Homo sapiens: one gene and its partners. The protein of the gene in region 2 interacts with the protein of the main gene of each other region in a pairwise test. Each region holds a gene or a part of one and is shown on either strand. Other genes may lie near its edges. The genes, in order: FLT3LG, LAMP2 and CASP6.

Region 1 (3,652 bases), on a different chromosome or scaffold from region 2:
GTTGGCCAGGCTGGTCTTGAACTCCTGACCTCAAGTGATCCACCCGCCTCGGCCTCCCAAAGTGCTGGGATTACAGGCGTGAGCCACCGCGCCTGGCCCCAGAGGGGTCTTTCTGCACCTAGAGCTGCCCCTGCCCCTCCACTGCTCACCACCCTTCCATGGCCTCCTAGTGACCCTCCCAACCTGCAGACACAAAGTCCAGGCCCCATAGCCCAGGAAGGACTCACCAGGATGAGGCCTTGGCCAGGTCAGTGCTCCACAAGCAGCAGGTCCTGGGGACTGGGGACGGGGGGCACCTGTGGGCCCCAAAGTGTCAGCCACAAGTGGGCCACCCTCTCGGCCCCCTCACCCCCTCTTCCCAGCCTGCTCACCTGCTCCCCAGGGCGGGGTGTCCTCCGCCGCGTCCTCTGCCAGTGCAGGCACCAGGCAGCGGCCAGCAGCAGGAGGCCCACGGGCAGCAGCAGTAGGAGGAGCAGAGGGGGCTGCGGGGCTGTCGGGGCTGTGGCCTCCAGGGGCCGGGGACTCCATGGGGGTGGCAGGGTTGAGGAGTCTGGGGAGAAAGAGGAGGCTGGGTGACCAAGGAGAAGGGCTGGGGTAAGGAAGGAAAGAGAGGCCTGGCTGCCACTGGCTGTGTGACCTTGGATGGGCTGCTTGGCCTCTCTGTGCCTCAGTTTGCTCATCTGTAAAACTAGGATAATCATTGTACCTACCTCATCAGACTGTCACAAATTAAATGAGTGAATAGGCTGAGCGCGGTGGCTCACGCCTATAATCCCAGCACTTTGGGAGGCCAAGGTGGGTGGATCACTTGAGGTCAGGAGTTCAAGACCAGCCTGGCCAACATGGTGAAAACCCATCTCTACTAAAAACACAAAAACTAGCCAGGCATGGTATGCGCATCTGTAATCCCAGGTACTCGGAAGGCTGAGGCAGAAGATTCGCTTGAACCCTGGAGATGGAGGTTGCAGTGAGCCAAGATTGCGCCACTGCACTCCAGCCTGGGCGACAGAGCAAGACTCCGACTTAGAAAAAAAAAACAATAGGCTGGGCGCGGTGGCTCACATCTGTAATCCTAGCACTTTGGGAGGCCGAGGCGGGCAGATCACGAGGTCAGGAGATCGAGACCATCCTGGCTGACACGGTGAAACACCGTCTCTACTAAAAATACAAAAAAAAAAATTAGCCGCGTGAGGTGGCAGGCGCCTGTAGTCCCAGCTGCTGGGGAGGCTGAGGCAAGAGAATGGCGTGAACCCAGGAGGCAGAGCTTGCAGTGAGCCGAGATAGCACCCCTGCACTCCAGCCTGGGGGACAGAGCAAGACTCCATCTCAAAAAAAAAAAAAAAAAAAAAGGTAGGCTGGGCACTGTGGCTCACGCCTGTAATCCCAGCACTTTGGGAGGCCAAGGCAGGTGGATCACAAGGTCAGGAGATCGAGACCATCCTGGTTTAACTCGGTAAAACCCCGTCTCTACTAAAAATACAAAAAATTAGCCGGGTGTGGTGGCGGGCGCCTGTGGTCCCAGCTACTTGGGAGGCTGAGGCAGGAGAATGGCATGAACCCGAGAGGCGGAGCTTGCAGTGAGCCAAGATCACGCCACTGCACTCCAGCCTGGGCGACAGTGCGAGACTCCGTCTCAAAAAAAAAAAAAAAAAATTGGTAAACTGAGCTCCAGAAAGAGGAATAAGCTTGCCCTTGTCACAACCAATATGAGAAAGATGGGGTCTGGGATGCACTGTGCAGAGAGGAGGAGCGGCCGTGAGGACAGGAGGGGAAGGAGTGGGGGTGCCTGGAAGCCTTTACCGGGCTGACACTGCAGCTCCAGGCACCGGGAGAAGTTCTGGCGAGTGATCCAGGGCTTCAGCGCCACCAGCTGCTCGGAGGTCTCCTGCAGGAGGCGGGAGATGTTGGTCTGGACGAAGCGAAGACAGCTGGGGGGGGGCTGGGAGCAGGGGAGGGAGACGTCACCACCACGTCATCCCCCCACCGCCCCTCCGCAGGCCAAAGGCCCTTCCCTGCTGGCGATGCCCAGCAACAGGGCCCAGTGAGCTCTGGCTCTCAGAGTTTATTTATTTAATTAATTAATTTTTTTTTGAGATAGAGTCTCACTCTGTTGCCCAGGCTGGAGTGGTGAAATGCAACCTCTGCCTCCCAGGTTCAAGTGATTCTCCTGCCTCAGCCTCCTCAGTGGTTGGGACTATAGGTGCCCACCACCATGCCCAGCTATTTTTTGTATTTGTAGTAGAGACGGGGTTTCTCCATGTTGGCCAGGCTGGTCTCGAACTCCTGACCTCAGGTGATCTGCCCACCTTGGCCTCCCAAAGTGCTGGGATTGTAGGCATGAGCCACCGTGCTTGGCCATATTTATTTATTTATTTATTTTTAAGACAGAGTCTCGCTCTGTTGCCCAGGCTGGAGTACAGTGGCGCAATCTCGGCTCACTGCAAGCTCCGCCTCCTGGTTTCACGCCATTCACCTGCCTCAGCCTCCCAGGTAGTTGGGACTACAGGCGCCTGCCACCACGCCCGGCTAATTGTTTGTATTTTTAGTAGAGATGGGGTTTCATTGTGTTAGCCAGGATGGTCTTGATCTCCTGACCTTGTGATCCGCCCGCCTCGGCCTCCCAAAGTGTGGGATTACAGGCGTGAGCCACCGTGCCCAGCCTATTTATTTATTTATTTATTTATTTATATTTTTTAGTAGAAACGGGGTTTCTCTATGTTGGCCAGGCTGGTCTCGAACTCCTGACCTCAGGTGACTCGCCCGCCTCGGCCTCCCAAAGTTACTTTATTATTTATTTATTTTTTGGGGACAGAGTCTTGCTCTGTCACCCTGGCTGGAGTACAGTGGCACGATCTCGGCTTACTGCAACTTCTACCTCCCGGGTTCAAGGAATTCTGCCTCAGCCTCCTGAGTAGCTGGGACTACAGGCGCGCGCCACCATGCCCAGCTAATTTTTGTATTTTTAGTAGAGACGGGGTTTCACCACATTGGCCAGGGTGGTCTCAAACTCCTGACCTCGTGATCTGCCCGCCTCGGGCTCCCAAAGTGCTGGGATTACAGGCGTGAGCCACTGTACCCAGGCTTTTATTTTATTTTTATTTTTTTGGAGATGGAGTCTTGCTCTGTCGCCCAGGCTGGAGGGCAGTGGTGTGATCTCGGCTCACTGCAACCTCTGCCTCCTGGGTTCAAGCAATTCTCCTGCCTCAGTCTCCCAAGTAGCTGGGACTACAGGTGCCCACCACCATGCCTGGCTAATTTTGTTTTTGTATTTTAGTAGAGATGGTTTTCATCACGTTGCCGAGGCTGGTCTCGAACTCCTGAGCTCAGGCAATCCACCCGCCTCAGCCTCCCAAAGTGCTGGGATTACAGTCGTGAGCCACCATACACGGCCTATTCTATGTTTTGAGACAGGGTCTTGCTCTGTCGCTCAAGCTGGAGTGCAGTGGCCCAATCATAGCTCATCGCAGCCTCGACCTCCAGGGCTCAAGTGATCCTCCCACCTCAGCCTTCTGAGTAGCTGGGACCACAGGTGGGCACCACCATGCCTGGCTAATTTATTTTTATTTTTGTGCAGAGATGAGGTTTCACTGTGTTACCCGGGCTGGTCTTGAACTCCTGGGCTCAAATAATCCTCCCACCTTGGCCTCCGAAA
Region 2 (3,652 bases):
AAACAATGATCCAAGATACAATGGATTGATTATATAATGAAGTGATTAAGAGTCCCCATTCCTGGAGTGGAAGAGCTAGAACTCAAATCTGGCAGTCCAACTTCCTAGCTGTGAGACTTTGGGCAAGTTACCCTTGTTTAGAATTATAGTGCATATTTCTCCAATAGGTTCTTTGAAAGCATATAAACCCTTCAGAGCTAAAAGAAATTTGCCAAACAAGTTAGATACCAATTTACAAGTCTCCTTTTTAGTAAACACAGCACCTAAAGGGAACCTTCCCAAGTTTTAGCTTTATGTTTACTTTCATCATATTAAATTCTGGACTCTTGTCCTCAAACTCATGAATTTAGAATGATGTTGAGCAAAAGGTCTTTTTAAAATACAGGACACAGAGGCATACGGTACCTATTTATCTTTGTTTTCTATTCAGAGTGATGGTTTTCCTACAAGTTTAAGTCAGATTAACTGTTTCTCCTTTATAATTCCTAATAATAGGTACACTCATTGCATTCAGTTACTTTATACCCTTGCTTTTGGTAAGTTTCTTAAAGGAGAAAAGCAATATGATTTTAAAGTAAGAATGTTGAACACATGAAAAAGAGTATTAAAAGTTAATAAAAATATGTTTTTAAGCTATAAAATGACTTAATTTGTTAAGGCCAAAGAGTGGGTAAGGAAACAAGATTCAACACTACTCAACTAATGGAAAGTGCTTATTGTTGAGCAGTGTTTGGCACACCTCCAGAATTCTTTCACAATGCACAGCAGGATACCAACAAGTACTTATAAAGTATACTTTTGGGTCTGAGGGGATCTCTGATCACTTTAATAAGAAATTATGATCAGAATACTTTTGCACTACAGAAAGAAGAGCAGCCTTCCTGCATCAAGGGTCATTTAAATCAGCTCCAGTGCTACGAAATAATGCTTGGTTATAGACAAAATCTACCCAAAGATATAGGGGAAGAAAGCTGTTCTTTTGGGACATATTTGAGTATCTATAACCCTATCAGATGTGACAATCTGATATTTGGGACATATTTGAATATCTATAACCCTATCAGATATGATAATCAATGACTAACAAACTAATCTGGTATTTGGGACATATTTGAATATCTATAACCCTATCAGATGTGATAATCAATGACTAACAAACTAACAAGCCTGTCCTTTCTTATCTTCTAGCTTGACTTCTGTTTTTCGTTTTTTTTTTGTTTTTTTTTAGGGTTCAGAATTTTTCAGTCCTTTACAGTATCTCTATTATAACTAGAATAATTTGGCAGAACCTCGAAATCAAAGTTATCAGTTAAATGAAATGTGTTAAGCCTATAGAAAAATCTTAGTGCTTGTTTTCTCTCAGAGAAAACCTAACTTTGTGAAAACCTAACTCTCCTCACCAAGGAACTCCTAATTCTCCATATTACCCCCTTCGAGACTACGGAGGTATATCTGAAGGAGTACAGGTAAGAAACTAGCATTATTATATGGGATTATACATTAGTAAATTACTGTATAATTATCCGTACTGCTTAGCACTGATCTTGAAGTTTTCAATCCAAAAGAACTTCTTGCAAAACATCATTTAAAATTCATGGAAGAAAAAGGAGACTAAATGAGTCTAGTTTACCACCATATCCCTAGTGCCCACCAATGAATATCTTCAACAAAAATTCACTACGGGTTAACCATGTACCAGACCCTATGCTAGGTAGGCAATGGGAAGTAACAGTACATAAGATCGTCTCTGCTCTTAGAGACTGCTACCATAGGAGAGACTTGACTAAAACTAGGGGGAAACAAAAAAGCGTGGAAAATAGGCTAGTAACCTAAGATTTTGCAAATGATAAGATTTATTCCTATTTCCCCAGATGGTCACATGGCTGGCCTCCTGCCAACACCCAGGTCTCTGCCCAAATGTCACCCGATAACGGAAGGCCCTCTGACCACATAATATAAAGAAGGATCATCCACCATCACCCATTCCTATCATCTACTCATTCTCCTTTCTCATTACCTGTGTAATTTTCTTCATAGTGTTTTTGTTTTGTTTTGTTTTGAGACAGAGTTTTGCTCTTGTCCCCCAGGCTGGAGGACAGTGGCATGATCTCGGCTCACTGCAACTTCCACCTCCTGGATTCAAGCAATTCTCCTGCCTCAGCCTCCCGAGTAGCTGGGACTACAGGTGCTGGCCACCATGCCCTTGTATTTTTAGTAGAGATGGGGTTTCACCATGTTGGCTAGGCTGGTCTCGAACTCCTGACCTCAGGTGATTTGCCCACCTTGACCTCCCAAAGTGCTGGGATTACAGGCGTGAGCCACCATGCCCGGCCTCTTCATAGTGTTTATCACTATCTGACATTATATTATTTATCTGTTGAGCTTTCTTCTCCCATTAAAATGTAAGCTCCATGAGAGCAGGAACCTCATCTGTCTTATCCATTCCTCTGTCCCTTTCACCTAATATAGTGGCTGGGACACAATAGGCATTCAGTAAACGTGTGGAAGGGAGAGGCTCCTACCAGTAACATACACTAAGAATATTTCTGTGAGGTTTTTCCCACCCAGAAAAGCCTCAAACCTAAAAAAAAAAAATTCTGAACCCTAAAAAAACAAACAAACAAACCAAAAAACAGAAGTCAAGCTAGTTATAAGAATCAATAACCACAGAAGAATCCTGAAATCTATGATATCACAAAAGGACCATAATTAGGCAATTATATAAAGAAAGGATTTTCACCCACTATCCACTTTATAACACCTCTAAATCATATAGCTTCTCTTCGGAAAGTTGTCTGGTCAGTTACAATTCATCCAAATAAACACCAGCATAATTTAATCTCTATGAAAAAGACCAATATATAGCCTCTAAGAATCCTTTTCTGTACTTATTCTAAAGCTGCTGTTTTTAAAAGGTTATGGGTGAAGCTGGGATAGAGTTATAAAGTTACAAAGTCAAACTGGCACAGCTAGAGCACTAATGCTAATAAGACTATAAATTTAGGACAGGTCCTCCTTCATTGGCACTCCGTACAGTACCCAGGCACAGTTCTAGCTACATAGTAGGTACTTTACAAATATTTATTGATTTAGCTACATATTAGGTACTTTACAAATATTTATTAAGTTTTCAAAAACCTATTATTGGTATCCATTTTGATATAGAAAAGTAACTTGTGCAAAACCCACCAAGCAACTGCTAAATTCTTGACAGAAAAAGCTATATGGGAGGACTTTGGGCTCCACACTGAACCAAGAGCCATCAGAAAATGCAGCTGTATAGAAAAATGGTTTCTATTTCATCCTGGAACCTCTTAAAAATCAGATCTAGGTACATTATTAATATTTACTTTTCCAAATCCTGCTCTGAACTTGGAGGCGGAGGGAATCAATCTTGGAAATTTTCCAAGAGGAAGAATCTAGTTAGTCCTGATCAATAAATGGCAAACTAGCAGATGAGCTGATGGGTTCTTTTATGTGCTTCTTTTTGCATGTTTATTTTCTGCAGTGAGTAAGCATTGCTTTTGTAAAAACAAAACAAAAAAGCTTTCATTAAAAAACAAAAAAAAATTTAATGACATGAAAGCCAACAAGTAGGACAACTATTATTTTTTTCACTTTCCCAAAACAATAACAGTGTTGTATTTGTGCA
Region 3 (3,652 bases), on a different chromosome or scaffold from region 2:
ATGTCCTCCATGCTATTCATGGAAATACAGAATTGTGACACTGGCATGTCAGGTTTCTCTTTTGTAGTTCAAAATCTTTGGCCGGGCACAGTGGCTCACGCCTGTAATCCCAACACTCTGGGAGGCCAAGGCGGGCAGATCACCTGAGGTCAGGAGTTCAAGACCACACTAGCCAACATGGTGAAACCCCATCTCTATGAAAATACAAAAATTAGCCAGCCATGATGGCAGGTGCCTGTAATCCCAGCTACTCGGGAGGCTGAAGTGGGAGAATAATTGAACCTGGGGGCGGAGGTTGCAGTGAGCCGAGATTGCACCATTGCACTCCAGCCTGGGGGACAGAGCGAGACTCCATCTCAAAAAAAAAAAAAAAATCGTTAATGATGTGCCAAGTAATATTCATGCAAAAAAAAAAATTTTTTTTTTTTTTTAGACAGAGTCTCGCTCTGACGCCCAGGCTGGAGTGCAGTGGTATGCTCTCGGCTAACTACAGCCTCTGCCTCCCAGGTTCAAGCAATTCTCATGCCTCAGCTTCCCGAATGGCTGGGATTACAGGCACCTGCCACCATGCCCAGCTAATTTTTGTATTTTTAGTAGAGACAGGGTTTCACCATGTTTGCCAGGCTGGTCTTGAACTCCTCAGGTGATCTGCCTGCCTCGGCCTCCCAAAGTGCTGGGATTACAGGTGTGAGCCATCACGCCTGTAAAAAATACTTTTATCCCTAAAACCAATTTGGCAGCGGGGAAACAATCTTGGTTTAAGGGGCAATGTGAAAGGGATGAGACAGGATAAGACTAGAAGGCTTTATTTTTCCATTCTTTCCACTGGTTTATATGCTCTCCACCTCCCAAAGAAGCAAACCTAGTCTGATGAGGTTGCCTTGTGCGGCACTCTTCAATCAGCAGGTACGCTTTCCAATGGCTCTCCTTGGTATCAGGCTCGGACAGGGAGTAGCACATTGGTTACTTTGTGAGTCACTTCAAATCTCAATCCAAATGCTGTTATTTTGTAATATAGACAATGAGAGTGTCAAAGAATTATTACTAACAGCTCAAAGTGCAACTATGATTGGCCAGAATTCAAAAACGGCCTGTCCAATTACTGGAGAAAGTTACTTTCAAAACTGGCTTTTAGACCTTTATCACATGTTCAGAATGACAGACTTTATAATTAAGATGATAATGTACTCAGTCTTACCTGAATGATAAATATCTTGGGTTTTCCAACCAGGCTGTGACACTTGTCTCCTTTGAACAAGCCAGTTAATGTCTGAATTTCGATTTTAGCATCATATGCATAAATGTGATTGCCTTCGCCATGGCTCAGGAAGACACACACAAAGCAATCGGCATCTGCGTGGCTAACAGTTGACACTATAAAGGACCCAAAAGAGAATATAGAAATGAAAATATGATGCTTGTTATCTACACATAAAAATTCAGTTTATTAACACAAGAATAAAGTTACATCCACATGATTGGGGAGGAGGAAAATTTGTGGTTTTGTCTTTTTTGTTTTTTTGAGACAGAGTTTCACTCTTGGTGCCCAGGGCTGGAGTGCAGTGGCGCGATCTTGGCTCACTGCAACCTCCACCTCCCGGGTTCAAGCGATTCTCCTGCCTCAGCCTCCCAAGTAGCTGGGATTACAGATTTGAAACCATATCCAGCTAATTTTTGTATTTTTAGTAGAGACGGGGTTTTGCCATGTAGCCAGGCTAGTCTCGAACTCCTGACCTCAGGTGATCCACCTCGCCTCAGCCTCCCAAAGTGCTGGGATTACAGGCATGAGCCACCATGCCCGGCCTACTCTTTAATAAGTGTAAAATATCTGTGATGAAACAACTTAGTCTTTAATCAAACAATATACCGTACTGTATCTTATTTTTTTAAAAAAATCCAAATTTATTAAAGTTCAGAGTAATAGAGTTTGACCAAATTTCATTAGCCTTTCTAAAACACAGAATGATGTGGAAAACATAAAGGGATTACGATAGGGAATCTCACTTAAGATCCAAGTTATTTTGGCAATAAACTAAAAATTTCCTTGAATCAGCAGAGACCTTAGAGCAGAGTGGAAAGACCCAGAAACTGCTGCTCAACAGCTCCCCACGCATTGCTGCACTTTCACTATAGGAATACAGCACTTAGGGCCAGGCGCAGTGGCTCACGCCTGGAATCCCAGCATTTTGGGAGGCCGAGGCAGGTGGATCACTTGAGGCCAGTGTTCAAGACCAGCCTGGCCAACACGGTGAAACCCCATCTCTACTAAAAATACAAAAATTAGCTGGGCATGGGGGCGAGCTACCTGGGAAGCTGAGGCAGGAGAATTGCTTGAACCCAGGAGGTGGAGGCTGCAGTGAGCTGAGATCACACCACTGCACTCCAGCCTGGGGCGGACAGCGAGACTCCATCTCAAAAAAAAAAAAAAAAGATTATAGCACTTAGAGCTTCCAAAAGAGTACTCAAAGCCAGGTGCGGTGCCATGAGACTGATGTCCTCCAAAGCTTCTGAGCAAAGTAGAAAAGCTGGTAAAAGCAGCCAAAGTTAGAATGATGTGCAGTTTAAAGAAGAGCTCTGAAGAAAGTTTAAAGTAATTATGCAAATATAATGGTTGGCATGCAGCGATGATTATAATATAGGTTGTTATAATTAGAATACCTACCCCCTATTGACGCTGTGAGAATTAAAGGAGGTAATGTATGTAAACCAACACTATTTGGAAACCAGTGAGAAAATGAGGCATGAAAGGAGTCAATGAGAAAATGAGCCTGTTGACTGCCCAGCACCTGTAGTACTTGCATTTTAGGCTTTTACTGCCAATTGAAGGGGTCATTTCATTCATTTCTACAAGAGACTGTAACTAGTGGTATGCTAAATATAAACTTTAGAGGCATAATTATTTGCAAGGGTCTCTAAATGTGCTGGGTAACGGAAACACAGCAGCATACCCAAAACCTGTAACCTGTGCTAAATTAATACTTTTTTTGTCACACAAGTAATTACTTGTACCTGTCTTTACAGATAGGATAAAGGACTCGGTTTCATTAGAGGAAGATGAACTATATGATAGCAAAACTACCTACCCTCATGAATTTTGAGCAGTAGTTCTTCTGCTTTAAGATCATTAAAGCATTTCACTTCAAATCCTAGATCTGAAAACCTAGTGGTATATTAAATGAAATGTTAGCCTATAAACTTTTCAAAGTTGTCAAATACCCTTACTTTGGAAGAATCTATACACATTTTAACGACACATAAATTTGCTTTCTTTAGGAGAAAAGAAATGAAATATAACAATGGTGGTTTTCCCTTCATTCACCATGGTCGGAAAGGATTTAATCATAATGACAGCCGATTCAATTTAGAGTGTTGTTGTCTACTATGCAAATGTTAGTACAAATGCAAAAGCCTGTCAACATTTAATAGAACAGAGTAAGGAAAATAACTCAGGCAAGTTTTTTTTTTTTTTTTTTTTTTGAGACAGAGGCTCACTCTGTCGCCCAGGCTGGAGTGCAGTGGCTTGATCTTGGCTCACTGCAAGCTCCGCCTCCTGGCTTCATGCCATTCTCCTGCCTCAGCCTCCCGAGTAGCTGGGACTACAGGCTCCCACCACCACGCCCGGCTAATTTTTTGTATTTTTTAGGAGAGACAG

Evidence for each region.
Region 1: the proteins of LAMP2 (region 2) and FLT3LG interact in binary tests that used the Homo sapiens proteins (3 or more experiments, as listed by UniProt).
Region 3: the proteins of LAMP2 (region 2) and CASP6 interact in binary tests that used the Homo sapiens proteins (3 or more experiments, as listed by UniProt).

The regions. Positions count from the first base shown.
Region 1 is NC_000019.10:49,477,196-49,480,847, reverse strand, and holds part of FLT3LG (fms-related tyrosine kinase 3 ligand isoform 1 precursor), read right to left. Parts: intron 1,940-3,652; coding exon 1,801-1,939; intron 551-1,800; coding exon 372-550; intron 297-371; coding exon 249-296; coding exon of another isoform or gene 228-248; intron 1-227. UniProt on the Homo sapiens protein: Stimulates the proliferation of early hematopoietic cells by activating FLT3. Synergizes well with a number of other colony stimulating factors and interleukins. Required for the development of B cells, and dendritic cells (DCs).
Region 2 is NC_000023.11:120,462,710-120,466,361, forward strand, and holds part of LAMP2 (lysosome-associated membrane glycoprotein 2 isoform A precursor), read right to left. Parts: intron 1-3,652. UniProt on the Homo sapiens protein: Lysosomal membrane glycoprotein which plays an important role in lysosome biogenesis, lysosomal pH regulation and autophagy.
Region 3 is NC_000004.12:109,693,327-109,696,978, forward strand, and holds part of CASP6 (caspase-6 isoform alpha precursor), read right to left. Parts: intron 3,161-3,652; coding exon 3,084-3,160; intron 1,375-3,083; coding exon 1,199-1,374; intron 1-1,198.